Regions from separate parts of the Homo sapiens genome. Here region 2 is linked to region 1. Evidence: fine-mapped expression QTL. Tissue or cell type: whole blood. Region 1 holds a variant in brackets; the other region holds the start of a gene. All regions are shown on one strand. Distances are from middle to middle. Region 1 has its middle 41 kb from the start of LINC00221. Region 2 holds the start of LINC00221 (long intergenic non-protein coding RNA 221).

What was found. PIP is the estimated chance that this variant, and not a neighbour inherited with it, causes the effect.
Region 2: LINC00221 starts here. The variant in region 1 is fine-mapped to the expression of LINC00221 in whole blood (TOPMed, PIP above 0.99).

What each region holds. Positions count from the first base shown.
Region 1 is chr14:106,515,644-106,531,525 of GRCh38, reverse strand. It overlaps IGH, the pseudogene IGHVII-46-1, the pseudogene IGHV3-47 and the pseudogene IGHVIII-47-1. Among named protein-coding and RNA genes, the nearest start is that of LINC00221, 41 kb to the right of the region's middle. The variant A/G (reference allele first, on the strand shown) is at 9,237.
Region 2 is chr14:106,475,835-106,491,716 of GRCh38, reverse strand. LINC00221 (long intergenic non-protein coding RNA 221) reads right to left here and starts at 9,278. Exons shown (of 3, transcript NR_027457.2): 1 at 9,080-9,278; 2 at 2,756-2,949. It also overlaps IGH, the pseudogene IGHVIII-44 and the pseudogene IGHVIV-44-1.

The sequences.
Region 1 (15,882 bases):
AATATTGAGGTTCCCCGTTAAACAGACTGAGTGAACTGTGGCTGCTCCACGTGGGGGCTGTTCTCAGTCTGTTGCTTCTGTGCTTGCAGAGGTCCCCTGTGAAGTTAATTACTGGAGTCTCTCAGAGAAATACTACAGACCAAGAATTCTCAGACTTTTCTGGAAACCCTGTGGATTCACTTTCACTGAAAACAGCATAAGCTTGGTCCAGCAGGCTTCATGACAGGGGTGGGTGTAGGTGATAACATCAGTAATTCAAGTGGAAGTTCTCAGTGGGACTCTCCTTGAGTACAAAGAAGATTAACAGTCCTCAGAGACACGCTTTTCAGATGATTCTCTCTTAAGATGATTAACCTGAGAGCTCAGGAAAATTCCGTTTATTACTGTGAGGGACACGGTGAGGGGACATCTGTGTGAGCTCAGACACAAACCTGCCTGCAGGGAGACACAAACCTCCCTGCATGGTAGATGCTTCTCAGAACCACCAGGGGGTGCACAGGAAACCAGAAGGTGCTCAGGACACCAGGGGGTGCTCAGAACCACCATGACTCACTCAAGACGCCAGGGGCGCTCAGAACCACCGTGGGGCACTCAGGACACCAGGGGGACTCAGGAAACTAGGGGGTACTCAGAACCACCAGGCGGTGCTCAGGACACCAGGGAGCTCTCAGAACCATCTGGGGGCACTGAGGAAACCAGGGGACTCAAACACTAGGGTGTGCTCTGAAGCACCAGCGGACCCTCAGGACTGCAGGGGGCGCTCAGGACACTAGGGAACACTCAGAACCACCAGGAAGCGCTCAGAACCACCAGGGGGCCCTCAGGACATCAGAGCGTGCTGAGGACCTCCGGGGGCGCTCAGGACCTTCAGAGAGTGATCAGAACACCAGAGGGCGCTCAGAACACCAGGAGGTGCTCAGGACAGCAAGGGGCTCTCAGGACACTAGGGTGTGCTCAGTAAACCAGGGGTCCCTCACAACCACCAGGGGGCACTCAGGACACCAGGGGATGCTCAGGACACCAGGGGCCACTGAGGACACCACCGCTCCCTTAGCAGGCAGCTCCACATCAGGCCCCTGGGTTGGGGCAGGAAGGGTGTTTTCCTTTTGGATCTTGCCACTAAACTCTTGGGAGTTTTTCTCCTTCCTTTGTGGTTTCAAGAAACATTGGTAGATTCTTCTCAGGTATAAAGCTCTGCTTTCTTGGATTATGTAATGTTTTTGGTTTCGGATGTTACCAGAATTACACTGCACTGTGAGAGGATTCATTCCTCGTGTGTGCAATAGTGAATGAAAGCTCCAATGTTAGGGGTGGCTTTGAAAGCTACGTTAGGGGTGGCTGAGGGCAGTTAGCAGGAAATGATCATCACTATAGAAGGCTACTCATTTCTTTGCACATTTCCATAAATAATTGTAGTTTATGCCCTAAAAACTGCATGTTTTCTTGGCCCTTTTTCTTAAATGCCTCCAATCCAAGACCAGTCATCTAATTAAGCTGTATGTCAAAGACCACCAATCAAGTTAAGTCTGTTTAATGAAACACTTTGTAAACAAAAAAGTACATCTGTGTTTGTATAGTCAGCTTTAAATTTTACATTGCTTTACAAATATTAATTTTGTAAATTTAGTCTCATAATTATCGTCAGTATTTAAAATCTTAAAGTCTTGCTATGTTAAATTAAGTAATCTTAGCTTTCTCACTATGAATTAGAGTTACTAAGAATTAGAATAGTAAGAGCATGTAATAAGCTTTTGGTGAAGTTTATAAAGAAAGATGAAGATACATTTTTTGCTTTAAAATATTTTGTTTTCCAGTTTACAGGACCTTTCTACTGGTTTTAAGATAACAATCACTGTTTACATCTAACCCTTTTTTTAAACACCTGCTGTTTAAGATTATAAAATTATAAAATTAAAAACCTAGTTAAAACCAGATTGATCTTTGTAATTTAACAAGATGTTCAGTATTGTTGTTTTAATAAAAAAAAATAGGTAAATACTTAGCTACTAGAAAAATAATCATCTACTTAATCATAAGGTTTTACTTAGGTAAACACCTAAATTTCATGGGTTATAAACATGGTTAATAGGTGAAAAACTTTAATGGACAAGTATTACAGTTTTCATAAATATTCTAGGTAAGCTATTTAAAAAATAAATTAGGTAAATGAAATAAAATAAACCATTTAAATAAACTTGTTCTACAATTTAAAAATCTAAAGTTTAATTAAATAATATATATTATATAAATGTTTATGCATTACTAATTGTTTAAAATATATATACTATAAGGAAAACTTTTTAAAAATACATATTATAAGAAAATATTTTTTGAAAACATTTGTTTTTAGAAAAATAATTTATTTAATTCAAAGGTTAATTATAAAATGTCATAAACATACCCAGTTAATAAGAGAGGTTTAAAGAAAGTTCTAGACATAGAGAAGTACTTTTGGTAAGAAAGGTTAAAATAAAAAAAAATTATATGAGAGGGAATTTTGTAGGATAACTTTTTATATATAAAAGTGACTATTTATGAAAGAATAATGTTTAGAATAAAACAAGATGTTCAAGTATGCCATAAATGGTTCGTGTAAGTCAAAATAAGGTTTATAGAAAGCTAACTTATTAAAAAAACTTCATGTTATCGAGTTGACTATAATTGAAAGGGAAGAATTTATTATAGTCTTTATAGGGATCTGGCTTTCATATGAAAATATACTAACACACTGAAGATTGGTTAGAATGACAAAATTGTCTTAAAGTATTGATTTATTCAATAAAATTATAAGGTATTATAATTTTTTAACCCAAAATTTTAACTTTTGTTGCATCTTGCCATTTTTATTTTTTTCCATTTGAGAAGGCTTGAGAGGATCTCAACTTTTTCATCAGCTCCTTTAACATTGTTTCTTACTTACAGCAGTTAGCCTCTGAGTTAACTTCTAACTGTTGTTAGTTTCTGACTGCTATTATTTCCTGATGTTAAAATCCTCTATCTTAAAGTTCTAAATAAAATGTTTTCTTTCAATATAATATTCAGTGTCGTTGGCTTTTCTTTAACTGTCTAAATTTTTCTATGAAACCAAAATCTTCACTTGTAAAGACACATTCTTCCTAGGTCTGATTAATTCAAATACTTTTTTCATTAGAGTTGACTTGCAGGTTATGTACATGGAGTTCCCCATAGGAAAAAACAGTCACAGTGCAGAAGGCTTTATTTTTGCTATTTGGTAACTGGCATGAGACAAATTTTAAATTTCATTGAAATAATTCCTATGTAAGTGTTATTAAGTTTTTCAACTACTTAGTAATACTGAGAGTTTAAGACAATAGAAATTAATGTTATGACATTCATGTAACTATCTGTATAACTTTTAAAGTCCTTGTGCTGCTACTTTACTGAGCTTTGAATCCTAGGTCTAAAAAGGACACACAACACTTTGGGAGGCTAAGGTGGGCAAATCACCTGAGGTCAGAAGTTAGAGACCAGCCTGGCCACCATGACAAAACCCCATCTTTACTAAAAAATACAAAAATTAGCTGGGCATGGTGGCAGGTGCCTGTAATCCCAGCTACTTGGGAGCCTGAGGCAGAGAGAATTGCTTGAACTCGGGGAGGTGGACGTTGCAGTGAGCAGATATTGCACTACTGCACTCCAGCCTGGGTGACAGAGTGAGACTCCATCTCAGAAAAAATAAATAAATAAAATAAAAAATAAAAAGGACACCAAGTCCAGCTAAATCTTAAACACCGACAGCAATTAAAGCCCCATCTACAGACCTGGAAGAAAATGACAAGAAAAATTGATCACACTCTCAAGACACAAGCCCAGAAATTGAAACTACTTAACCACCCCAGCCCCAGGGACTATTACAGAAGAAGTGGCTTTGTAAGATTGTAAAAGCTAATTTTGAGAGATGAAATCGGTTCAGAGTTTCTTTATAAATTAAACATTAATGCAAGGCTAGCATCTGGGCCCCTGTGCCAGATTGACCAGGGTTTCTTGAAGAATTAATCCACATTTAAATTTAAAAAACAGATAAAACTGTATAAAAGATCTATGCAAATTATTTTTATGGTAAAAGTAATTATAATTTAATAGATTTATTTTTCAGAATTGATAGTTTTAACTTTTCTCATGCTGTTCTTCTAAGGGGTTATATTTTAGAAAATCAATTCTACTCTTTCAAAAATATTTTTTTTCTTTTTTTTAGAAATCACTGAGTTTTCATGTGGCTAAATAAATAACTTATTTTACAATAATCTGTAATCCTATTTTGTAATATCAAGTGTTGTAAACTTTTGATATTTGACAAAGTTCACAAAATAAAATTCTAAATTCAGTCATTTGAACACCCTGAAAAGAAACACATTTAGCTTATTTGGTACAGTTAAATTATACAGGAAGTAATGTCAAATTTGCAATGGTTATTAACTTTGGACTATATTTATATAAATGTGGACTATATAATTTGAATATACTTATGTAAAGAGTATATGTTCCAAAATTCTATTAGATTCAAGTGATTTTTATATGTCTTAGTATCAGTAGTACTTATGATTATAATTTAAAATTTTTGTTTATCACAGAAATAACCAAATTTTCTCCTCAATTCTGTCTTTAACCAGGGGTATTCTAAAAGGTCGGTCATTCACAATTGTTGTTTTACTTTGATTCTTTATCAGGTGGCTTATAATAATCTATAGAACTTTGAGTAGTACTCTTAAATATACAATATACAATTTTGACAATTTTATAAATTGTGCCTTTGGTATAGAGAGAAAAACTTCCATGAGTCTCATGAGACCTGAAGCATTTATGATGATTGTTAATCTAATATCAAGCAGGACAGGATGTAATTGCATGAACTGAATGAAAAGGAGACTGAAATAATTTTTATAACTTATTCTTTAAAGCATTTGCTATTTACTTATGTTTTATTGTTCAGAATCAAGAAAACTTTGTCTTTTAAGCTATTCACAGTTTTTAACAATTTTAACTATACTCTATTGAGAAAAATTGAAAATATAATTTCTTCTTCTCTACATAATTTCTCCAAAATTTGGAAACTGTAGGTATTCTTATATCAAAATAGTTATTTGCATAGGTTCGATAAAAATCTGCTTTCTTCCATAACAGAGCACAATTAGAGACAATGGTCACTTTACCAAGGCTTTAACTTGAATGACATATTTTCTGATTTACTTTATAAAATGAAGAGCTGTACAGCTGATATAAGCCCCTTTGGAAAACTGGCATTTTACCTTTTTTTTTTTTTTTTAACAGGGCCCTGAGCTGTAGTAAGTAAATAATTTTGCTTTCTGACAGGCCCAGGAAACCCAAGTTTTCTTGGATACTTGAAAAAATAAAAAGTAAACCAATCCATATAGCTATCTGATGGCACAGATAAAATATTGGCTGGGCTTGAGGCTTTTAAAGATCTTACCCTTAGATTCCTTATAAAAAATAGCAAAAGCAATGTATGAATAAAACAGCCTATGTACAACAAACAACAACAAAAACAAAAACAATAAAAAGAGAGCTAATATGTTAAGTGATTATTTTTGCTGCATCTTATACAAAAAAATCAGGCCAAGTATAATAAGCCTAAAATTTATTTTACAAATAAATTAGTCCTATTATGATTTTGTCTCCAATAAAATTGGGGAATTATAGGGAGAAATATTCTTTCAAAATAAACTATAGTGCATCTGTTATTAGGTTCTAACCTTGTCCACTTGTTTTTCAATTTACAATATTTTCTACAATTTGGACTCAATTTTAAAATATTTCTTTCCACAAGTCTCCAAAATAACATTTTCAGTGATTTTCTTTTTAAATATTTTTTTCCTATTTGAAATCTCCAGAAGGTAAACTGTGCTTTCTTACAGCTAGTCAACTTAAACTCTAAAATAAAATAAAATCAATGATATGGTTTGTCTCTGTGTTCCCACCAAAATCTCAGTTTGTATAGTAATAATTTCCACATGTCAAGGGTGGAAGGAGGTGAAGATAATTGAATCACGGGACGTGTTTTCTCCATGCTTTTATCCTATTAGTGAGTGAGTTCTCACAAGACCTGATGGTTATATAAAGGGCCTCCCTCTTCACATGACACTTCTCTCTCCTGCAGCCATGTGAAGAGGTACGTGTTTGCTGCCCTTTCCATCATGACTGTAAGTTTCTTGTGGCCTCCCCAGCCATGTAGATCTGTGAGACAATTAAACCTTTTTTTTAAATAAATTATCCAGCATCAGGTATGTCCTTATAGCAGCATGAAAATTGTCTAATACCAGCAACTTAATTATATACAAAAATTCCTTTTATACCCTCCTACTGTGAAGGGAAAATAAATCTTGAGACCCCAAAATTACTAAGCTAAAGAGAAGAGTCAATGTGGTGTTACAGGAGATAGAAAGAAATTATTTAGGTAGATAGTTGGGATGAGAGAGTCTCTGGCAAAATAACTTTTCTTCTAACAAAAATCAGCTCAGAAATAACTTCTTCTCTAATTACACACAGTTCAAAGAAATCACTTCTAACAAAAAGCAGACTAAATAATCAGGCTGTGAAATATAGATAAGCAACTCTGCCACAGAGAGGGTGTTTCTGGGTGTAATCACCAAACCTCACATATATAGGATGGGTCCCAGTAAAAACAGTGAGCCTTAATAAGCACATTCCTTTTCTTTTCTGGGAGTACACTAAGATAGAAAAGCTGGAAGCTTGCACGGGGTTTGCGACGCCGGCACCTGTGAGGAAGTACCTGGGACCAGGCAAGAAAACCCTTCTGGCCTTTCTTAGCACATGCACGGTGGAAGAAGATAAGCAGTGTGGAGGAGATCAAGCAAAGTGCCCGCCTGCCCAATGAAAGCATGAGGTGGGGTTGCCAGAGACTTTGCTCTATGCAGATGGCACACATTGTCCTAACTGTTTTTGCACCCTATGCTGATAAGACACCGTCTCCCCACGAGCACATTTATAAAAATCCTTACATTTTACTGCAGCACGATAACCCATTTGGGACCCCTCTCTGTGACAGACAGCTTTTTTTTTATTTTACCTATTAAACTTGTGCTCTAACCTCACCCTTAGCATGTCTGCGACCTTGATATTCACGGCCGTGAGACAAAGAAGTTCGGGTGGTATTCCAGACAACGAGGCTGCCATACTGGAAAGTGCTTTGGGCAAATCTGCCTCCCCTTCTGTTTAAAGTGATTCCTCTGAGGCTAACCTGAGACCAATACACAGCTGATTGCTTCCTCTTCACTATCATTTATGTAAAAACGAAGATCCACTGAGTCAGACTAAATTGTGCATTCAGTGGTAGGCTAATAAAGTACTCAAAAGAACGCAACCTATTGTCTCTTATCTACTTCTAAACTGCAGTCCGTGCTTTTGATTCGTCCTGCCTTACAGGAAAAATCCAAAGTACATTTTACATATATTGATTGATGTCTCATGTCTCTCTAAAATGTATAAAAGCAAGCTGTACTTCAATCGCCTTGGGCACATGTCTCAGGACTTCCTGAGGATGGTCATGGGTGAGTTATCTTTGGCAAGATAAACGTATTAGTCTGTTCTCCTGCTGCTAATAAAACATAACAAAGACCGGGTAATTGATAAAGGAAAGAGGTTTAATTGACTCACAGTTTCACATGGCTGGGGACACTTCACAATCTTGTCAGAAAAGCAAGCGACATCTTACACGGTGGCAGACTAGAGAGAGCTTGCTCAGGGCAACTCCTCTTTACAGAACCATCAGATCTAATGAGAAGTATTTACTATCATGAGAACAGCATGGGAAAGACCTGCCCCTGTGATTCAATTATCTCTCATTGGGTCCTTCCCATGACACATGGGAACTGCAGGACTAGAATTCAAGGTTAGATTTGGATGGCGACACAGACAAACCACATTAGTAAACTTCCTAAATTGACTGAGACCTGTCTCAGATATTTGTCGTTTACCTTATTCATGTTCAGCCTTCAGAGTTCCAAGGCCTATATCAGTTTTCCAGGATTGTTTCCCCTTTTTGTTGTTTGTTATTTCCTCCTTTATTTATATGTTTTACTTCTCTTTTTTCTCCCACTATTTTCTTATTAATGGATGTGAAACTTCACAACATTTGAAATATAGGTAACAATGAACTATAATAACAACTTGGGACCTATTTATCTAGAAATAATCCGTCCTACCCATGAAAGAAAAAAACAAAAACAAAAACAGAAGCCCAGAAACTTATTTTGTGGTAAAATGCTTCCTCTGAAATATTTTGGAAAGGAAAAAGTTGGGAAGATATGAAATGAAAATAAAAACTTATGATGTCAATTCATTACGTCATGAGGGGGGAAAAAACTAAAGGATGATCCATGCAAGAAACTGATTTTCCTTTCATTCCTAAGAAAATAGCCACAGACAGATAAAATGTTAGATATCTTCACAGATAGCTACAATTTGTTCATCTTTGAAATACTTAGTGCAGGAGAACCACTTGATATTCTATTTCCCTATGTGCTTCTTTTTCATTACTACATGTAAGTTTTCATGCAATTCCTCTTTCCCCTCTAGCCAGCTTTTCCCCTTTATATATTGAAAGCCCTAAAAAATGTCTTTTGGGAATGGCACTAACCACGCATTGTTTCTGTGATTACTTTTCTTCCAAGCATGCCATAACTTTGGAAAAATTAATTTTAATTTGATTGAGAGCTCTCTCAGAAACCTTTGGTTACACTAGGCAAAATCCAAAATCAGGAGCCAATTATTGTAAAAATCAGCCATAGTACACTGTGCGTCTGTGTGTGTGTGTGTGTGTGTGTGTACATGTGTGTTTTAATTTTTGCGAGCTTTGAGCCATGTAGTTCTCTCTGTGGAGATGCTATTTGGCGTGACTTTGAATAGAGAATTCTAAAAGAAATAAGAAGCTCCTATGAGTTCTCTGAAAGTTTCTGGACTCACCATGGATCTTGACTGTGTCACTGCATCTGACAGTCCCAGGGAACAGACTCTCTGGTGGTTTCATAGAATCTATGCTTGGGCTCTCCCTGCAGTTTACTGGGTATAGTAATGACAAATCACTGTTTCAAGAGACAATTTCAAAAGCATTAGATGCTGCTGAGAGAGGATTGTGAACCAGGGAACTGCCCCTTTCTTCTTGGAGAGCGACATTGGGAGAATATGCTCTGTGAGCCCAAACAGCATCCTCCCCTGCAGGGTGAGGGCAGAGCTGCAGG[A/G]CAGGCCCAGAACCCACTCCACACAGATGTCAGCCCTGGAGCTGCTGCAGAGGAGTCTGAGGAGAAAATTTTTCCAGCACCTGAATTACACTTATTTCAAAACAAAAATGCAATTAAAAAGTTAAAACAAGTAATTAATGTCCAGGCACAGTGGCTTACACCTATAATCCCAGAAATTTGAGAGGCTGAGGTGGGAAGATTTATTGAACCCAGGAGTTTGAGATCAGTCTGTGAAAAATAGTGAGGCTTCATCTTTATTTTTGAAAATAAAAATAAAATAAAACATAAAAAATTTAGCAAAAACTACAATGCGTCTTTACATACCCCATCATACTTGAAGCATTTACCTAACCCAATGAGGTGATGAGGACCCAATTTGAAAGGAGAAAATTTTAGACTTTTCATATATCTTAATAGTTGGAAGATGTAGAAGAAATATATTTATATCAATTAAATGTGTGCAAATATTGACAGACACACCATACCAGGAGTTCAACTTGCAAAGGGTAAAACCAAAAAAGTTTGAGATTGTTAATGTGCCATTTGAAGGTGAGATCGTTTTGAGGACCATGTCCTGTGAGAGTTTGTTTCTCTATTAGAGGAGTTCTGTACTCATAAAGTTCTGGACATGCCAGGAGACAAGTATCAGTAAACAAATATCAGAACTTGAACTTCAGCTTCCCACTCTTGCATTCTCCATGTGTCATCTCTCTACTATTTCTCATTCTAGATCAGGTCTTTAGCTATGAAATATTCCACCTAATTAACATGTAAATAGATTGAAGTCCACAGAGTTAAATATGTATATTTTCTCCTGTTTTTCCCAGTTGTTCCCTCCCACAGCTCCAATATTCTCCACTGTTACCATCACCTTCTAGATCTGCTGCCATGCCCTGCAGATTAAGGATTTGATTCCACGACAGAGAGGAGGTGCATTTCAATGGAACTTTGGTGAGAACCTCGGTTTTTATCCCATTTCCTCTGGGGCTCCACCAGTGCATCTGGAATAATGGGTTCAGTGGCTGGCCCCTGCAGGGTGATTCCTTAGTTCTGTAGTGAAGATGAGGGAGGTGGGTCTGAATGCATTTCAGAAGTATGGGCTCTCCTCTCTCAGACAGACACTTTGGGAAAATAAGATTTTTCTGACTGCACCCATTCTAGAACAAAGGAATTCAATTGGATAAGAATGCTGATAAAAAAAAACTCAAACCAAATTAAATTTAAAGGAGTTTAATTGAGCAATGGATGATTCATGAATTGGGCAGCCCCCGGAATCACAGCGGATTGAAAGAGAATTCAGTGCAGCCATGTGGTTGAAGAAGATTTATACATTTTTTTAAATGATGTACAGAAATCAGAAGTGAGGTACAGAAACAGCTGGATTGGTTACAGGCTGATGTTTGTCTTATTTAAACACAGTTTGCACACTCAAGAGTGTATGAGTGGTTGAGGTATGGCTGCTGAAATTGGCCAACGCTCAGCTGTTGGTGAGGTGCTCAGGTACATACTCCTGAGTTAGGTTTTCAATCTCGTCCACCTATTCAGGTAGGTTACAGTTTGTCCACAAGGACTCAAACATAGAAGTACGGAGTCCTCCTCAGGCCATATTTAATTCACTTTATCAGTGCCCTTCAGCATATGGTTCCTGAGAATTTCACACGGCAACATGTTTACCACCCTAGAATTTAAGCAATCCAATACATGTAATAGGCTGTATTTCACATGGCAACTTCTGCCTCAGTTTAGCTAACACTATGGCTTTGTTTCTCTCTACAAGAACTCATTTCTCCCAAAATTTCCATTTTCCTGAAAGGAAAATAAATCTTTGGGACCCTCATATCACTAAGCCAAAGGGAAAAGCCAAGCTGAAAACTGTTTGGGGCAAACCCACCTTCCATTCTTTCCCTAAAATGATAGCTGTTAAGGTGTTTACAAGCTACATATCTCCTTCAAAATTTGACCGCACAGAAAATCCTTGTTGACCAAGGACATTGTAGACCAAGCAGAGAGTCATTTCTCTGCTCACGTAAGTCAAATGCATATCTGATTGCTCCCTTTGCTCTATTGTTTCACTAAGCCAGACTAAGGCCTATGTGACTATTCCTGTAAACTGTGCATTCAGTTAAAGGCTAATCAGAAACTCAAATAATGCAACCATTTCTCTCATACCTACCTATGATCTGGTAGCTCTCCCCCCAACTTCAATTTGTCCTGCCTTTTTGAACTAAATAAATATACCTTACATATATTAATTAATGTCTCATGTCTCCCTAAATTGTGTAAAACCAAGCTGTGTCCCACCACACTGGGCACGTATCATCAGGACTCCCTGAGGCTGTGTCACAGGCATGTCCTTAGTCCTGGAAAAATGAACTTCCTAAATCTATTGAGATTAGTCTCAGATACTCTTTGGTTTATAAGTATGTTTTCTATCTCATAACTTCAATTATCTGAAATACTAAAGGAAATCTGCCAAATAACACATTATCTTGTTTATCTGTTATTGTTGTTGCAAAAATAAATATATTTATATAATTTATGTATAATTGATCATCTTTGTACATTACCAAACTGAGTAGCAGATTTGTTAGTAAGACCCAATGTAATAAAAAATTCAAATATCAATTAGCAACTTAATAGAAAAACAAATTACGCTACATTTGTTTGCCGAAATGCTACCAATTTTTATAAAAAAATAAACACATATAACATAAATGGTTTAATTCTCAGTATTTCTATTGAGAAAAATAAGCCAAATACATAAGCGAATATACTATATTATTTCATTCTTATAAATTCTACCAAATAAATACTAGTCTAAAGAAATATGAAAACATCAGTAGTTTATAAAGAAATGGTAGAAAAAGGGAAGGGGAAAAAACAAATAATATAAAAGATCAAGAGGAATGCTGAGGGGAGTTGACTTGTTACCTCATTGAAAATAGAGATTATTTTTTCAAAGTTTACTATTGCACATGTTAAATATGTGAATTTTATCATCTGTCAGTTAAAACTCATAAAATTTATTACAAGTAAACAGCCGACATTTTATACAAAAAAGGGATGATAGGAAGAAACAAATAAATACATTAAATGTCAGATACACCAAAAACTTATCTGCCTGACCCCTAGTTGTCTCCGTAATTTTTGGATGAAAACCAGCCCACCCCTGACCCTGCTGCTCTGGGAGAGGAGCCCCAGCCTTGGGATTCCCAAGTGTTTGCATTCAGTGATCAGGACTGAACACACAGGACTCACCAGGGAGTTTGTGCTAAGCTGGGTTTTCCTTGTTGCTATATTAAAATGTGATTCATGGAGAACTAGAGAGATTGAGTGTGAGTTACATGAGTGAGAGAAACAGTGGATATGTTTGGCAATTTCTGACCTTGGTGTCTCTGTGTTTGCAGGTGTCCAGTGTGAGGATCAGCTGGTGGAGTCTGGGGGAGGCTTGGTACAGCCTGGGGGGTCCCTGCGACCCTCCTGTGCAGCCTCTGGATTCGCCTTCAGTAGCTATGCTCTGCACTGGGTTCGCCGGGCTCCAGGGAAGGGTCTGGAGTGGGTATCAGCTATTGGTACTGGTGGTGATACATACTATGCAGACTCCGTGATGGGCCGATTCACCATCTCCAGAGACAACGCCAAGAAGTCCTTGTATCTTCATATGAACAGCCTGATAGCTGAGGACATGGCTGTGTATTATTGTGCAAGAGACACAGTGAGGGGAAGTCAATGTGAGCCCAGATACAAACTTCCCTGCAGGAACGCTGGAGGAAACCAGCTGCAGGGGGCGCTCAGGAGCCACTGATCAGAGTCAGCCCAAGAGGCAGGTGCACACAGAGGCTGATTTCCTGTCAGGGTGTGGGACTTCGTCTTTTTACCATTTCTCTAGGGAACCTCTCTAAGTTCAGAATTCTGTGCTTACCAGTGTCATCTCTACATGTTTTTTAATGATTATTTTAATATGAGAACCTATTCTTACATGCACAAAATGCAGATGGATGCTTACAGAGATGAAAAGTCCTCAACCATGGTCACCAGGATCAGCCTTGAGGAAACTCAGGGGTGCCTGGTGAATCTTCTCCAGTCAGACTCAGGACAGAAACCTCTGTGAGATTCCCTGACTAGATCAGTCTTCAGGAATTTTGATACCAGCCAATAGAGAGGCTGGGACAGGGTCAGTGTCATGTAGAACCTCACAGGTTTCACGTCTGACCCTTCTCCTTCTCCTGACACTAAAGTATGCAAATCAGTATCAGCACTGATCTGGGTCCCCTTTTGCTCTTAAACCATTCTATTTCTTTTTATTTGTTGTTGTTCTTGCTTTTCCTCGTACTTCTCTTGCTCCCTGTAAAATGGGGAGGTGTTTCTTGCTGCAAAAGCCCCAAGCCTCAAGCCCATTCCCTGCAGCTCAGGCGGGGCTCAGGCTGTGGCTCCTGCAGCCACATGGGAGTGGCTGTTGGGGCTTTCTCTTCTCCCATTGCTCAGCACCCTCCAGTGTGTTGTGTGGAGACTACCTGGGAACGAATGTGGACAACAGGAGTGAAGGGGATGAGCTTGCGTGGACAAAATGGGATGTGGATGTGAAATTTATCCTGTGCTGTACAAACAACCACAGATTCAACTTCCTCACCAGTAGTATTAGAAAGAGGGTGTGAAAGTTGTCAGAATAAAAATGGAAACACTTGTGTTAACACCCTGACAAATGGAACTAGGAATGACCATGAAGAAGTTTCTCATGCATATACTCCAGAAAACAAGAACTACCGTAAATGGATTCTGCTTAACCACAGCCTTGGATAGAAGAAACCACAACCTTACAAAAATCACTTCTACAAGGATATCTTCCCAGCAACTCCCTGTTTAACCCTACAGTGATGCCACCCTTAGTCCTACAAAAATCACTTCTACAAGGATATCTTCCCAGCAACTCCCTGTTTAACCCTACAGTGATGCCACCCTTAGTCCTGATTCTAGGAGCACAGGATAATCCTCTCAAAATGACTTATGTAACCCACCTCATTTTCACTGCGTAAACCTATGGATTCACATCCTGGAGTCACTGCTGCATTTGTTCTTAATGGTCATTAGCCCCTTTCACAATATTTGAGGCTGTTTTTCTCTGATGTCTCTTCTAAAATAAAGAATTTCCAAGTGGACAGCAGTAAAGAAGCTATTTAGGAAGATGTAATGGGAAGGCATCTTTAACATTCTGTTGAATGTTTCCACATGGCACTTCAATCCCCTAAAATACTTTGCTGTATCAGCATGTGATGAATCGGAGTATAATATTGAAGGTAAAATGGGAAATACATGGGCTTTTGATGAATCAAGTCATAGGATGAGAATGTCTGTGTCCTTGAGGAAGGAGACCATGGGTTGTAAGTTCTAGTGGAGGTACCTTTGGCAAAGGGAGTTCATGAGTTTCTGAACCTTATGCTACTTTTAATTTAAGGAAGCAATTTATGATGTATGTTTACTTAAATCTTTCCAGAGACATTTGTCAGTAAGGACAGGGTAGCATTTGTGTAATAGTGATGACTTAGAGAGTTATTTTGTAATTGCTCCTGTAAGGTATGCACATTGCTCACTTGATACAGAAGTTCAAATGTCACAGGTGGAAAAACAGGAATAAAGGTGGGCAGATCACAAGGTAAGGATCACAAGGTTAACCATCCTGGCTAACACGGTGAAACCCCATCGCTACTAAAAAATACAAAAAATTAGCCAGGCATGGTGGCGGGCACCTGTAGTCCCAGCTACTCAGGAGGCTGAGGCGGGAGAATAGCGTGAGCCCGGGAGGCAGAGCTTGCAGTGAGCCGAGATCACACCACTGAACTTCAGCCTGGGCAACAGAGGGAGACTCCATCTCAAAAAAAAAAAAAAAGAAAACAGGAATAAAGCAAATTTTATGAACTGTCATGACTGTAGTTTTTGGCAAGGACATTATCATGTCAACCTGTAAATAAACAGACAACAATAAAACATATCAAATCCATGGGGAGTCTGACCTGTGTCCCTCTGTCTTATAAGCACAAGGCTTTGCCACATCCAAAATATTATTCAGGCTCCAGGGTATAAAATGCTTTTGGACTGTGGAAGGTAACAGCTCTCCCCTCAGGCAGGGGTAAGGTATCTGGGGAATGCAGAGTTGTGTTCATAAGGAAGATGTCATTATCGTGTCTTCTCCTGTGCCTGGTAGCAGGTCCTGAAGGTGAGCGTCTCAGATGTCAGACATGGGTCTATCGGGTTAGGATAGGTACATGTGACTGACAGGGACTGATTCTCCATGTAATCACATGCCCTGTCCCAGGAGCAGCTGCAGGAGTCAGCCCTGGACCTGAATAGCACACACTTACCCTCTGCCTCACCTACACTGTTACTGGCCACTCCGTCACAACCAGTCCTTACTAGTGGACCTGGATCTGCCGGCTCTCAGGGAGGGGCTGCAATGGATAAAATCCATTGCTAGTGGTGGTGGGAGTCCATTTGTCTTGTGGAAAATGGCAGCATTTCCTTATTTTATAAGGCATAATAATGCTATGTTGTGTACACATACCACATTGTCTTTATCCATTTGCCCATTGACAGACACTTAGTTTCCATATCTTGGCTGTTGTGAATACAGCTGCAATAATCACAGGAGCGC
Region 2 (15,882 bases), 40 kb after region 1:
TATGCAGAAATAATGGCGTAAGCTGTCTGTCTCTCTCCCTCTCTCTCTCTCTCTGCCTCAGCTGTCAGGCAGGAAAGGACCCCTGTCCAGTGGACACGTGACCCACTTGACCTTACCTATCTCATTGGAGATGACTCACACTCTTTACCCTGCCCCTTTTGCTTTGTGTCCAATAAATATCAGTGCAGCCAGACATTCGGGGCCACTACCGGTCTCCATGTCTTGGTGGTAGTGGTCCCCTGGGCCCAGCTGTCTTTTATCTCTTTGTCTTGTGTCTTTATTTCTACAATCTCTCATCTCCACACACAGGGAGAAAAACCCACCGACCCTGTGGGGCTCGTCCCTACATCTGAGCTTCTCAATGGAGGTCTACTTCTCTATGAGACTAGCACCTTCTGTGGAGTCTCATGCTGAATGTCTCCTTCTTGATTATGGTCATTGGTTATGCAGTGCTGTAATTAGAAACCCTTACAGAATAAACTACAAAACAAGAATGATACTACCTTCTTCAGACATGACAATTCTACCTAATGTGCACAACTGGACCTATTGAAATCTTAGCCAGGAGAGGATGCAGGCATAAAGCAGATGATTTTCCGATTGTTCCACCCTACCGGGTTATATTGAACAGTGGACACAGGATTCAACAGGTACCGATTATTAATCCAGTGAGGAAATTATAGAATAGTCCCAAGTCTAGGCAGAGAAGAGTAGCTGAAGACAGTACTTTCCCTGCAGCTCTGAGATTCACTAAAATGTCCAGCTCTGTCCCTCACTCGTGAATATCACAGACTAAAGGACACCCTTCCCACAGCATTGGCTCTCCATGAAGATTTGAAATTGATGCCCAGGCCTCAGGGTCTGCTGACAGAGCTGTGACAGTGGGAGTGGAACTCACACAGAGCAAAACAGAGTGTGTTGCATAATAAGGCTGTACAACATTTTCATAATGGAGGGAATCTCTTGGTCCCAGGAAGATGACAATTTAATATGTCTCAGGCCTGTGGAGCTCTCTTTAGGAGCTTTGTGTGTGGCTTCTTTGTATACTCTGGCTCCAGGAACTCCAGTGAGGGAAGAGATTCGTCACCTCCTGTGCGAAGGGGGCTGAAGCGAGGAAGACAAGTGGCCTGGCTTCCACAGAACCCATAAGCTAAAACACTCCGAGTTCCCTTGACTGCAAGAAATGCAGCTGTCATCACGGTTTCAAGTGCCAGAGTCTTTAATGATTATGTTTCAACTCATGAGAGTGCCAGGAAAATTCCACCAGTATGAACTACTCAAATATGTCATTTTGTAACATTACTTCATTGCTTGCTCTCATATCCTCCATGTTTCTGAAAAAGCAAAGTTTCCATGCTTTATCATCTGCACCAATGAGGCCATATTTAAGCTATATTTTCATATGAACGTCTCTTGAAGATTTTAAAATAGAACAAATGTTGAACAATATGCTTAAAAGAAAAAAAATAAAGAAAGCAGTCTATGTTGACTCATGTGACATTGATAATGTATATTAGATTATATTGGTTGCTTATTTAGTTGGTCATGGGAGAAGAGCCTTCTTTCCAGCCAAAGAATACTAAGAACTCCCTCTTCTAATGACGAATTTCAGCTGATCTTGCTGAGAATATTTAGCAAGAAGACAGAAACAGAGACTCCTAAAGGGAGCTCCAGAGTCCTGAGATACATTTAAGTTTTCATTTTCCTGGAACCCAGAGATTCCCCACTGTTCTACAAGACAAGACCCCATTCTATGACCCTGTCTGAGGAGAGCTCAGGGGCAGTGAGCTCCCCCTCACATTACCCCTTCACCCTATGCCCTTGGGGCTCTGTCCATGCAAATAAGTCCCGGGTTCAAGAACGAATAGAGGCAGGGCTGTGAGTGTTATGCTGTGTGCTGGCTCTGAGCTGGGGTCTCTAGTAGCACTCTCCACATCCATAGATACATGGCCCCTCCGCTACTCCTTCTCTGCCTGCTGGCTGCCCTCTGTGGTGAGTTACTCATGATTTCATACGTGGGGAGACACGGGATGAGGCAAATGTGTCTGTGACTCACAGATGTTCTCTATTCTCAGGGGTTCACAGTGAGGACCACCTTGTGCAATGGGAGGAAGAAGTAGTGGTCCCCTTGGTCATGCTCAGCCTCACCTATGCCGCCTATGCACATTCAATTTCTGAACATTCTGTTTCCTGGATCCACCATCTCCCATCAAAAGGTCTTCAGTGTGTTGGTGTGATATGGGTTAAGGGAAACACTAAGCCCCAACCTTCAGGGCAGAGCTAGCATCTCCAGAAACACATAGTAAAAAACAAGAAAACTTACAGCTGAGAAGTGTGATGGCTGGGGAGGCAGGCGTGTATTACTGTGCTCAAGGCACTGTGACTCGAATCCAGAGTGAACTCAGACACAAACCTGCCCTGCAGGGGTTCTTGGGACCACAAGGGGAAGGATCAGGTCACCAGGGTGTACTTAGGAACCACTGAACTGGGTCAGGCACAGGAGGTGGGGGTCAGGGCTCCTCCCCAGGGAAGGGCTTTTAATCTCCATGCCTTGTAAACCTCTGACAAGCCAGGCAGACACAGACATATTTTTAAACTATGGAAACAGATGTACCTTTCATTTTGGAGGAAAAAGATCATAAGTGTGAAAGCAAAACTTACCAAGGGCCAGGTACTGGAATAACTGTAATCTACATAATCACTCTAAGAATTCTAAGAATTTACAAGTGCAATCATCCTCATTTCATAAACTCACCTTAAATAAGAGCTTTCTAACTGATCCCATATATTCTGATTTTGTTTATTTCTTCAACACTTTATTATCTTCAAGGCATTTCACTGATGTCAATTTTAGAAGAATCATATGCAAACAGCCTCTCGTGGTGGTTGAAAGCCCACAGCCTCGCCAGTCCTGTGGATATTTCTGGATGTTCTCAGAGTCTCCATTGTCTGTAGAGAAGAATTGTCCCAATAGTTATTTCACTTTTGTCTTCCACAAAGTTGGAAAGATGGGGATCACTCAGGGGAATCGAGATCAACAAACAGAAAGCCTGAACCCACCATATACAAGATAGGATGTATTTTTTTAGGAATATATTAATTCCCAGACCCTCAGGCTCACATACCCCATGTGGAGGGGAACACACATCCACTCCTTCACTCAAGCCAAGCTGGCCATGCAGCTCAGCTTCTGCAGGCTCAGGACTGCAAGCTCTCCAGTGTGGGAGTGGAGCTAATGGGAGGTGAGGCCAAGTCTCTGCCCTCACAGAGTCTCATGATGAAGATCTGATGAAATATTTCCACAGTAACATTTCTTTGGATATATAAATGTAGAATATATTTTGAAATAATGAATGATGTATCTTCTGATGGATTCATGTTGGGGAGGCAATAGAGGAAAAATAAAGGTAATTTTAAATTTCTGCTCCCAGCTACAGCACTTGATTTTGATTTAGTGCATGACTGTTTGAAATTTTTTGATGCAGTCAACTTCAGCAGCCCAGACCTGGAAGCCCAGCCAATAAATGCTCCAGATTGGGAAATTTAAACTGATGGGAGCTGTTTCATGGAGGAGGAAAAATGCTGAGCCAGTTGTGCGATCATAACTATTGACTGGATAATAGAAGCCTGTGCCCTTTCTGCCAGTACCTCTGGTCCGAAACCTGAGCTAATCACCCTCACCAAGTTGAGTAAACATTGACACCTATACTAAGTACACCTTCATGGTGGTGCATGCTCATGGGGCCATCTGGAAAGAAAGAGGCCTTGTCTCATCAGGAAATAAGGACATTAAACACCCAATAGAAATGGTGTTAAACTACTAGAGGTGTGTTCTCATCCTTCTCATCCTCCATTATGCATTGCCCTGAGCACCCAAAAGATGACTCATTGGCACCTAAAGGAAATCAGACTGCAGAAAAGGCTGAGAAGTGAGCAGTGCAGGATGCACACCTGCTATGAGCTTTGATTCCACATCTGGAGTTTCCATAGTTCAAACTCCATTATACTAAATAGACAAGAAGCATGCCTGCGACTGGGGATTTGGTAAAACAGATCCAGATTTATTCTGAAAAACTAATGCTTATGGATTATTCTTACTCTCCGAGGCCCTGGTCTACAATTTTAAAACATTTACATGAGGGCACACACTCCAAATGAGATTCCCTTGCAGACTTTGTATGACCATGTGTCAGAATGGTCAGAAAACTGTTCAGAAAGTCACATACGAGTGTGTTTTGTGTGCCAAAAATATCTTTGAGACTGAACAAAATCTTTGCAACGAAGAGGTACAACACAGAGAACTGTGACTCTTGGAAGATTGGCAAGTGGATTCACTCACATGCCTGTGGCCAGTGGCAACTATAAATTCCTCCTGATTGTTCTAGATATTGTTTCAAGATGGGTAGAAGCATATCTCACCAAGTCCCAAAGAGCCACATGACTGGCTAAGGCATAATTCAAGGAAATCGTTGCCAGGTTTGGACTCCCATGCACTATACACAGTGACAACGATCTTTCTTTTATTTCAGAGTTTACTCAAAAGGTAAGTCAAGCACTGCAAATCGAATGGAAACCACAGTCATCATGGAGACCACAGTCAGCAGTAAAGAAATAAAAGATAACACCTTGAAGAAGACAATAGCCAAACTCAGGCAGGAAATTGACCTGCGTTGGGATAGATTTTTTCTTATTGCCTTGTTCTGGGGCAGAACGGTGCCCTGAAGTGGGCTTGGGAAAAGTCTCTTTGAAATTATATATAGGAGGCCCTTCCAGACCTCTTGCCAGTAACAGCACCTTTAGAGCTGGTAAAAGAGCCCAGAGTTAAACCATATGTGCAGATTGGTGCAGACCTTGCTAACTGCACATCAGCTTGCTATTTCCAGGCCTGTTTATTCCACAGTGAGCCTCTTCACCCCTTCCATCCAAGAGACAAGATGCCACTACAGTCTTGTAAAAGTCAAAAACAAGATCAGCAGCTGACTGAAAGGTGGAACAGACCCCATGATGTGCTACTGATTAACCTTTGTTCAGTTAAGTTATCCAATGTAAAGCCATGGGTGCATCGCTGTTGGAAAAAACCTGTCCCACCTCAATTTGACCCCAGATAACAGACTACCTGGTCACATAAGCCTAAGGAAAACCTGAAGTTGCTGATAAAGAGGAGACAAGAAGACAGATAGGTAATACCCTTCTGTTAATATAAAATTCTTAATGAGTTCTATAGTTATAAGTACATTATTTCTCCTTATTAAAACTAATCTTTTTTGCTGAATGGGTGGAAGATGGTGGCTTCCCTGCAAAAGAAAACATAGTTGGTTCTGTAAAGAGTTTGCCCATTTCTTCCACTATAGGCCTGCCCTGGCATAATACAAGCTCCCAACGTAAGAATTTATGATTTTCCATCCATTGGAGAAGCCATCTTTTCCATCTATTATAAAAACAGAAGACACTTCATTAATATCACTCCCACTATAGGCTATGCCATATCCAGTGAGGTAGGATGGCTGACAGTGGTGCGAATCCAAGTAATTGGTCAAGCACTGCTATGTGTGAAGAAACACCACAGCATACTCTACACTGTCACTCATGATATGGAATTGTTGCCTCCTTAGCAATGTAACTGAGCCCTTAATATGTGGCTGGGATGACAAGGCAATGCCAGCCTGCAGAGTGGAATCTGTTCTTCCCTCTGGGGTTAGCTACAGCCTGTGGCACTCATGGCTGGCCCTACTTTCCTTACAACTGGACTAAAAGAAGCAACTGGATATGACCTTATATCCCAGGATGTAACTGTCCAAAGTGCATTCTCTTTATGTCAACTGGAAAAGTGTGAAAGACAGACACTACTGACATAAACAGACATCCTAGTTGTTCTGCCCACTAGCCAGCTCTTCCCCCCAGGTGGCAGTCATAGATTTAGAATTGCAAGTAGAGGCCCTGGCTAAGCAAACCACCAGTCCCTTTAACAACACCTACCATGCCATCATCATTCTTACTGAAGAAACCTCACAGATTTGACAAGTGACACTATGAAGCTATATGACCCTAGGTATTGCAACTACAGCCAAAGGTAACACTTGTGTATTAATGAACACTGAATGTTGCATATATATACAAGATTAGTCCCACAATATAACTCAAGCTATGCAAGCATTAGATACCCATATTTCTGCTAGAGATGGATGCCCTCTCTCAGAACCCCATGACAGCATGGTTTAGTTGACTTCCTAACACATGGAAGAGTTTCATATATAGTAGAGCTGGTATTCTGTTCATTGCTATCTTCAATTGCTATGGATTTTATTGCTATCTTGCACTTTAAGTGAGAATGTAATACTGACCTTCTCAAAAACTCCTAGGTCCTTGCACCATAATGCTCCAACAAACACCTACTGTAATTCCGGAGACTCCAGAATATTTCCAACTCCAGTTTAATGGATTCCCTTCCAATACATACAACCTATGCCCTTTCTAAAGAAGTAGCCAGAATGACTATGACACATGTTTTCCATAGAAACGAAATGGAATTTGACAGTGGGGAATGATATACAGGCAGCTTAATTTCAAAATGCATTTTAAACTTAGTATTTGAGGTTTTAATATTATTTTTTATACTCCCTGAAACCTGAAATTTCACACTTACATTTTAATTCAGACTTAATAGCAACAAATAACCAGAACACATGAATTGCCTGTAATCTCTATACCTTGCATTGTAAGCCACATTTCAAGTGTAACCTTACTTGTCAGCACAGTATGTTTACCACAGGCATAATTGCTTGTCCTGACTGTCCAGAAGGCAGGGTGGTATTAAGTATGCGGCCTCTGGAGCTGGGAAGTCTGGCTTTGTATACCGTCTCTGCCACTGCTAACTGGAGGACAATGGGCCAGTTACTTCCTGTACCCCAGTTTTCTCATATGTAAAGTAGGGTTGTTGTAAGAATGAAATTAGTTAATATTTAGTACCTAACAACTAATAGGCATTACATGGTAGCTATTGGTATTGCTATCGTCAGAGAACACACAGGAGTCCATTGTTATTTTTACCCTCCCCCTCCAAACAAAATGTGTAAGACACTAGACATGGTAGCTCTGTAACGGGGTTCGTCATGTATTAAACTGTGTACCCAAATGATATGTCAAAGTCCTGACAACCAGCACTTCAGAACACGTCCTTATTTGGAAATATGGTAGCTGGAGATGTTATTAGTGAAGATGAGGTCTTACTTGAGCAGGGCAGGCCCTCAATGTGGGAAGATGGGTGTCTTTCTAAGTACAAGGAAATTTGGACACAGAGACAGAGACATACAGTGTGCCATATGACAGCAGAGGCAAAGATCAGAGTGGTGCAGCAGTAAACCAATGCATGTCCGGGATTACCAGTCACCTCCACAAGTGAGGAAAGGGCAAGGAAGAATTCTCCTGAGTCTCAGAGGGAGTGCAGCCCAGCTCACACTTGATTTTGGACTTCTAGTCTCTAGAACTGTGAGAGAATACAGTCCTGTCATTTTTAAGCCACCCAGTTTGTAGTATTTCATTTTGGCAGCCCTAGGATATTCATACAGAATTCTTCACCCAAAAGGAAGCACTCTTTCACACAAACAGTCAAAGTCCTGGATGACAGACAACCTGGAGACTGCAAACCTCCAAGGAATCAAAGGAAGTTCTATAAATTCTAGGGGCCCCATCTTTCAAAGGCTGCTCCTCAAGTCCACACCCACACTTTGGAAGGAGAATCCTGCTCTTGGACATGGGATCCTTAGTGAGCCAACTGCCAATAATCCAACATCGTCATGAATTAAAGATCTCTGACATTTCCTCTTCACCAAGGGGAATTCTGTCAAGTAGTAAGTAAAACCCTTCTTCAGTAATCTCCACACCAAACAGTTCTGCATGGCTTGGGACGCCTCAGGAAACTTATAATCATGGCAGAAGAAAAAGGGGAAGCAAGGCAGTCATACATGGTGGCAGAAGAGAGGTTAAACTTTTCTGTCTCTCTTGGGTGTAAAGATATAATCTTGAGGCAAACAGCAGAATCAATTTTCTTACGCCTTGAAATAGACTCCACCTTTCTCCCTTTCACCATAAATATTCCCTTCACATTAATCTAACTTTATGTTTGCATCGAACTATGTGCCTTTTTGGAAGTTCCGGAAGCTAATTTGAGACAGATAGACAAAGTCGGGAGACCCTGATGCAGAATTCCAGAGGTGACTTCAATGTTGCTAGTTAACAACCCAGGCATTGCCCAGATGATGCCAGCCCAAGATCTAGGTGGACTGGGATGCCAGAGAGCCGCCAGAACAAGACGCACAGACCTGGTTCTCAGCCCAAATCTTGCATGCCTTTCTTACCAACTTTTCCTTTTTTAAACCCCTGCCTTTCCTTCAAAATTCAAGTGGTTGCTTGGGATGGGAATGCGGTCACTTCCCCTTTACCATTATGGTTAATACAATAATCTTTGTACCAGATCTCTCTCTTGTTAATTGGATCCTGCAGGTGGCAGATTCCGGACCAGAGTGAGGTTAGAAACTGAATGCACATACTGGGTGGTTCACAGACACGGTGTTCTGTGAAGTTTATGGGTGGATTCCTGGGGAAGCCTGCAAGCCTGTTAGTGATTAGCAGAACCGCATCCAGCTACTGGGATCTGCACGCCAGGTGCCGTGAGCCCCTCACCATGTTCCCTGGTCCCAGCTGCCCGCGGATGGTTCAGCCTTGACAACGGGCTCGGTGTTCTGGGTGGTGGGAGAGCAAGGGGGCCCCTTGGGCAGCGTGCTACAGGGCTGTGAATCCAGGGGCCCACCCGGTGTTCCCTGTGGAGTCACTGAGGGAATGAGGGGCTTCTCAGGGCACAGAGCTGTGCCGCCTTTGTGCAGTGGTGGCTGAATACAGTGACACTGGGCGCGTGGTGAGAAGCGGGGCAAGGTCAGTTCACTGGACCCTCCGCCCTGAGCCTCAGATGAGTCGGGGGTCCCCAGACAGGCCCGGCCTCTGCCCTGCGGCGGACACTGGAGCCTTTGCTGTGGCTGCCACCGAGGAGCCTTGACCTCAAAGCAGCGGGAACCTCTCTACCCACCTCGGAAACCTGAAGGCAGCGGCGGCCTCTCCCAGCCAGGACCTCGCCGGCATCCGGGTCTCCAGGCCCAACCCTGTACCACATAAAGGAAGTCCCCGCTGAGCTACCGGCGGGACACAGCGCCGTTGGGTGGGCGGGCGCGGCGGGGCGGGAAGCACGGAGCAGCTGCCACAGAGATGCGCGGGGGCTGTCGGGAAGTGGGCGGTCCGGGAGGCGCGGGGCTGATGGGACGTGGGCGGTCCGGGGACGCGCGGGGGATGGCGGGACGTCGGCGATCGGAGATGCCAGGGGGCAGCTGGGACGTGGGCGGTCTGGAGAGGCGCGGGGGCAGCTGAGATGCAGGTGGTCCGGGACGCGCGGGGGCTGGCGGGTTGTGGGCGGTCCAGGGATGCGAGGGGGCAGCTGGGACGTGGGAGTTCCGGGGACGCGTGGGGTCGCCAGGAAGCGGGGTCTAGGACTTAGATCCGCTTTCTCTTCAGGCCATGCAGCCCCGAAGCTCCGAATCCTGGGATGACTCCTGTCCATGTTGGAAGGGACCCTGCCAGTCCTGGCAAGGTTCAAAGGCCTTAGGGCAAGAAATGTTAGTAGAGTCCTGGAAGACGATGTGGGGAACGGGTAGCGGCCACCGGATGGTGATCGTTCTTCTACAAGACCTTGACATGGATGGGGAGAAACAGAGAAGAACCTTCCAAGTTTGTCCCACTGGACATGCCCACCACACTTTACCAGCCCTTTCTAGAAGGCCTGTGCGTAACACATGAAAAAGCTCCGCTCGACCTTTCCCTGACCTTTTAAAAGAAAACATTTGCTGCATCTAATCCGCCTAGATATAAGGAGGTTCCCAAATGTATGACAGAGTCAGAAAATTACATGTCTTGTAAGTTACCATGTGCTTGTCTTTTGTTTTCCGTTTTTTTTCGTTTTTTTGTTTTTTGTTTTTGAGACGGAGTCTCACTCTGTCGCCCAGGCTGGAGTGCAGTGGCAGGATCTTGGCTCACTGCAACCTCTGCTTCCTGAGTTTCAACAATTGTGCTGCCTCAGCCTCCCGAGTAGCTTGGATTACAAGTGTGCACCACCACGCCTGGCTAATTTTTGTAGTTTTTAGTAGAGATGGGGTTTTGCCACGTTGGCCAGGCTGGTCTTGAACTCCTGACCTCAGGTGAGCCACCCACCTTGGCCTCTCAAAGTGCTGGGATTACAGGTGTGAGCCACCGTGCCTGGCCGTAAGTTACCATGTGCTTTTTAAAAAAATCATAGCAAAGGGGTGTCTTCTGGAAATGACATTTTGAAATGGTGTTATTAGACCACCCCTGGAAGGGACACAGTAACCACACGTCCACGTTCGTTCAGTGGGTGAGAGGACATGGAGGGGAGACCTGGGCAGGAAGGGAAGAGGGTTCCATGCCAGGCTGCTCATATTTAGAAGACATTTTCATATCATTGTCATTGTTTTCTTGTGTGCGTTTTATTCCTCGCTATTGTATACATCATTGGAAATTCTAAGTATTCTTTTGAAATATCTAGTCTTTCTAGATGTTCTGAAGTGCCTGATGTATGTTAAAATTACAGGTGGTAAAATAATAAATTTTGTAAATATCTTTTTGTTAAAATTCATATGCAGTGTTTTATTTTATTTTGATGTTGGTGGGGGGTGGGGAGGATGGCCAAATCCCTGCTTGATCAACACACATTGCGTTTGTGCTCTGGTTCAGGGGAGGAGAGAGGAGGAGAAAGTGCAGACTTCCAGGCCTCTGTGCGCACCGGGAGGAGAGATTAATGATCATCTCTTCTGTCTGTGTGTTTGTTTTATTTATCTATGGATATCCTGTGTATAAAGGATGAACAAGTCCTATTTATAACATCTAATCTTTTCAGGTGTTAAGTTGCCAGTGTATGACGGAAGCAGCGTTATTAAACGAACGCAGCTTGTACATATTGTGTTAAAATTCATAAAAAGCCAGTCTTCTGAAAAGAACCCTTGGGCCCTCCCTCCGCAGCCTCCGGCGCCAGCTGCAGGAAGACCTGGCCAGGGGAAGGCGGGCGGCACAAGCTGCTGCTGGCTGTGGGGAAGGCGGTGGAGCCCAGGCCTCCACAGGCTCCCCACAGGCTCCCCACAGGCTCGCGCGGCTCTGGTCGCTGGGCTCCGCACGGGCCGCGTGGGGGCGCCTGCTGGGAGCGAGGAGGCGCCATCCTGGCTCGCCTGCTCCAGGAGGACGCTCTGGGCCTGCGCAGATGCAGTTCTCCAGGATGGGCGCGGGCGCTGGGGGCCGCGCTCCTTGGGCTGCTGCGCCTCCACTGAGCCGCCTGGGTGTGAGGACCTCGCGCCGGCGCCTCCGGGAAGGACGCGGAGCCGCCGCGGCCGAGCCCAGGGCTGCAGCTGCTGCCCGACGCCCGCGAGAAGGCCCTTCCGCCACCGCCCGCGGGTTCGAACTTGGAGCAGCTGCTGCCAGCTGAGGCGCCAGCGGCGTCGGGAGCTCCTCAGAGTCAGTGTTTTGTGCTGGATTCGGCATGTCCTCTGAAAACTCGGGAATTTGTCACTGAAATGGTGACAGGAGGTGAGAAGTTTTTTTAGACGTTGCCTTCGCTGACCGGGCGCCGGGCTCAGGCCTGGAATCCCAGCACTTTGGGAGGCCGAGGCGGGCGGATCGCTTGAGCTCCGGAGGTGGAGAAGCTGCCTTCGTGGTAACTGTGGTCTTAAGTTCAGCTGAGAACGATAAATGGCTTTTCCTTGAATTGGCTGCTTTTGTGATTTCTCTCAGGCTCATCTTTCCTCAGTTAAAAATCCAGTGGTAGGTGTAGCTTAGAGACGGGAAATTTTTGGTTTTGTTTTGGCTACACGTAAGTCTTGGAAATTATTTTCTTTTACGTTCCAATGTGAGCAAATCCAGAAGGATGTCAGATTAAACACCGAATTTAACAAATTCAGCCGGGCACGGTGGCTCACGCCTGTAATCCCAGCACTTTGAGAGGCCGAGGCGGGTGGATGATGAGGTCAGGAGTTTGAGAACAGCCTGACCAACATAGTGAAACTCCGTCTCTACTAAAAATACAAAAATTAGCCGGGCGTGGTTGTGCGCGCCTGTAATCCCAGCTACTCAGGAGGCTGAGGCAGGAGAATCGCCGAGATTGCGCCACTGCACTCAGCCTGGGCGACAGAGCGAGACTTCGTCTCAAAAAAACAAAAAAAAAAATCAATCATTGGAATACTGTTGTTCATTACAATTAATGAACGTTTGATACACGCATAAACGCACTAAATTCACGAGTACATATAAGTAAAATAAGCCAAAAAAAAAAAACTACATCCTGTATGATGACACTTTTATACATTCTACAGAATAGAAACTGAAGTGACATGAAGGTCGGGAGTTGAATGGAGAAAAGGTGAGAGAAAAGAGGGAGGAAGGCGTTGCAAGAGAATAAGAGAAAATGTTGAGGGTAATTGATTTGTTTTCTATCTTAATAATGGTGATGGTTACATCAATAATTTCCAAATTGTACATTTTGTGTGTTAATTAGAATTTTATATTATTCAAGCTATTACAAATAAATACCTGTATAAATTTCTTAGGGACGGTGTAAGGGAGATGGATAAATCACATAAAAAGTCAGATATTTCTGAATGTACAATGAATAACCCTTAGCTCTATCTCTATTTTTTGGTAATTCTAAAATGCAGCAGTTTTTTTTAATGTTTTTATTACAAGAAGGGTTTCTTCAAACCACACCAGGTATGCGTAACTCTGGGATAAAGTTGGCTAAGGGAGCTGTGGGATCCGGTGGAGAGGAGCACAGGTCCCGATCCTGGAGCCCATTCTTGTCACATGTGAGCTCCAGGACACATCTCATAGCTCCCTCATGCTTCTGGGTTTACATTCACATCTGTAAATGGAGGACCAATGGGCATCTGCCTCTAACAATGTATTTTCGTGTGTTAAGATAATGTATGCTAAATGTTTACCACAGCACAATCTTTTACTAAGAAATTACATTTTTTCCAAATATTATCATTGTCTTCAAGCCCCACCACCCACTAGAAAACTTCATCTGCTCTGTGCCTTGCCCTGTCCTCAGACATCCTGCCCAAGAGACTTCTATATAGTAGGAGACATGCAAATAGTTCCCTCCCTCTGCTGATGAAAACCAGCCCAGCCTTGACCCTGCAGCTCTGGGAGAGGAGCTCAAGTGCCAGGATTCCCAGGTGTTTTCACTTGGTGATCAGAACTTAACACAGAGGACTCACCATGTTGTTTGGGCTGAGCTGGGCTTTCCTTGTTACTATTTTAAGAGGTGATTCATGAAGAACTACAGATATTGTTTGTGAGTGGATATTAGAGAAACAGTGGATATGTGTGGCAGTTGCTGACCAGGATTTCTCTGTGTTTGCAGGTGTGCAGTATGAGGTGCAGCTGGTAGAGTCTTTTTTTTTTTTTTTTTTCACTTTTTAGCGAACATCCATGGGTTACAAAATAATGGGTTGGCTTTTCTTCCAACACTTTACAGACACCATCAATTTTCCTCTTGCTTATAAGGTTTTAACCAGAAGAATGCTGTCATCATCTTTCCTGTTCTTTTAGAAGGAATGCCCCCTCAACTCATCTCCACTTGTCTGCATGTATTTCTATTTGTCTTTGGTTTTCAGCAGTTTTAATAAGATTCACCTAAATGTGTGTGTGTGTGTCGAGGGGTGTTATGCTATTGTTCTGTGTTCTCTGAGATGCATGGATTCACCGTTTACTCTGTCTCCATTTTTGTGAAAACAATTAGAAAAAAAGTCAGTGTGAGCCTAGAAACAAGCCTCCCTGAAGTGGGCACTGGACCACCTGGGGGCGCTCAGGACCCACTGAGCACAAGAGCCAGCCCCAGGGCAGGTGCAGAGGGGTGTTAAGGTCTGGTTTCCTGTCAGCCCTGTGGCTTCCTCTCCATAAAACAGTTTCCTTTGTGGCACATCTCTGGATTCCTTATCCTTTTTTTCCTGTGAAGTCTGAAGAAGAAACATTTGTCGTAACAAGAGAAAAACTTTCTCATATGCACCAAAGGCAGAGTCACCTACAGTCATTTACTCCTGTTTCTGAATGTCAATAAGGTGTCAATGCTTCTGAAGTTAATCAGCTAAATCTATAAAAGGTGCGGTGTTTAACTCAGCATGGCAGCCCAGCTCAACAGAACTCCAAGGGCCAGTGAGCAAGCAGGCAGGATAAAGTGCATGCTGGGCATTGGGGCAGAGGGAGTTAGCATCCAGTGCAAGAGAAGAAAGCCCCCGTGGTGGTCATTGTCAGGACTCCAAGCCCACAGTTCCAATTGTAGGTGATACTGGGCAAAGGAAGAGAGACCCCACCAATGGTTAGTGTGGATTTCGAGTCTGATGGTTCCACACTCACACTCCAGGTGAATATGAAAACATTTATTAACTCTATTTTTGAGGTGTCTGCTGAGAGCAGCACAGGCCTCTCAAGAAATTTCAAACTGGAATTTCCTCAGTAGACAGGAAAGGAGGCTGGCTCAGGGCTTTATAATGATTTGGTGGTGGGGTTGGGGGTGCGTTTCTACTCAGGAGAAGGAGATTGTGTGATTTAAACCTCACAGGGGCATCAGATAAGGGAGCTTCTGTGATTTCTTACTAGATTTACCACATGCAGGGGATAAGGAGGAGGAAGAATAAACCTTAATTCGTCAGCAACGAGGCACCAAAAATAGGACCTGACGCTTTATTCTCCCTAGCAGCTTAAGAAAATGAGTGAAAAAGAGAGAGAAGAGTCCACTATGTGTGAAAAGCAAACAGGTCTAAAGAAAATAAAAATTTTATTACTGTAAGCACATAATAAAAAGAAAGAGAAGAATGAATGAGACAGGCAGGGGTGCTGAATCAATGTCCTGAGTGGGGCCTTTTCATTATCCACAGTTATCAGTTAATTCTGAAGGTCTCAGGTCAGCTTCCTGCTTCAAAATATCACAGGCCCTTACAGTATATGTGAAAATCCTCGGTTTGTCGTTCTTCACTAAAGTAGCCTTATAATTAGATGTACTTCTGAATTTAATCTTCAGTTGTGTTAAATAAAAAAAAACACAATCTACAATTTAGGAAAGTGAGAGTTTATTTTTATCAAGGTTTACAGCCATCCCATATGCTGGAAAGCATAGCTTTTGGTAAAGACGAGAGAAAGGCACTCCCAGGAAGAAGGGGTTGGGCAGAAGCTTTATGCTGAAGGGTTTGGCTAAACAGACATAATCAACAGGTTACAGGAGGGGCTACTGATGTTCATGGAGGTGGTCCTCACACATGCATACTGAACAAACATGTCTGTAACGTATGACCCCTGTTCACTTACCAGTGGAGACTTAGCATTTAAATTCATTACAGTCAGGCCCTATGTGCCAATAGCAGAAGCAGAAACACAAAGGCACTCAGGGTGCAGCCTCTGTAAACGGCCAGAGCCAGGCCATGGTGAGTGGTCTCTGATCAGGAGAAAGGTCCTGATATCACTCTAGTGTTCAATCAAAGCTGGGGTTATGGCTTGTGGAACAGGGGTCAGTTCATCAGGGGATGGGCTGCAATTGTCTTCATAGTGCTTGTCTCAGTGCCGGTGCTTACTGAGCCGCTAGAGAAAACGAATAACCTATTGGCAGTTAGAAGACAGTTTACCTTTTAAGTGTGGGAGTGAGTGGCAGAACCCTTGCCTGACATGGCTTTAGGTCTTGTTTATAATTTGACATCTTATTGCCACAGAGATTCTGTTCTGTCATTCTTTTGATCTCTATTTTAACATTAGTGTTGGTCATTGTTGTGTCTAAACCGCAAAGGG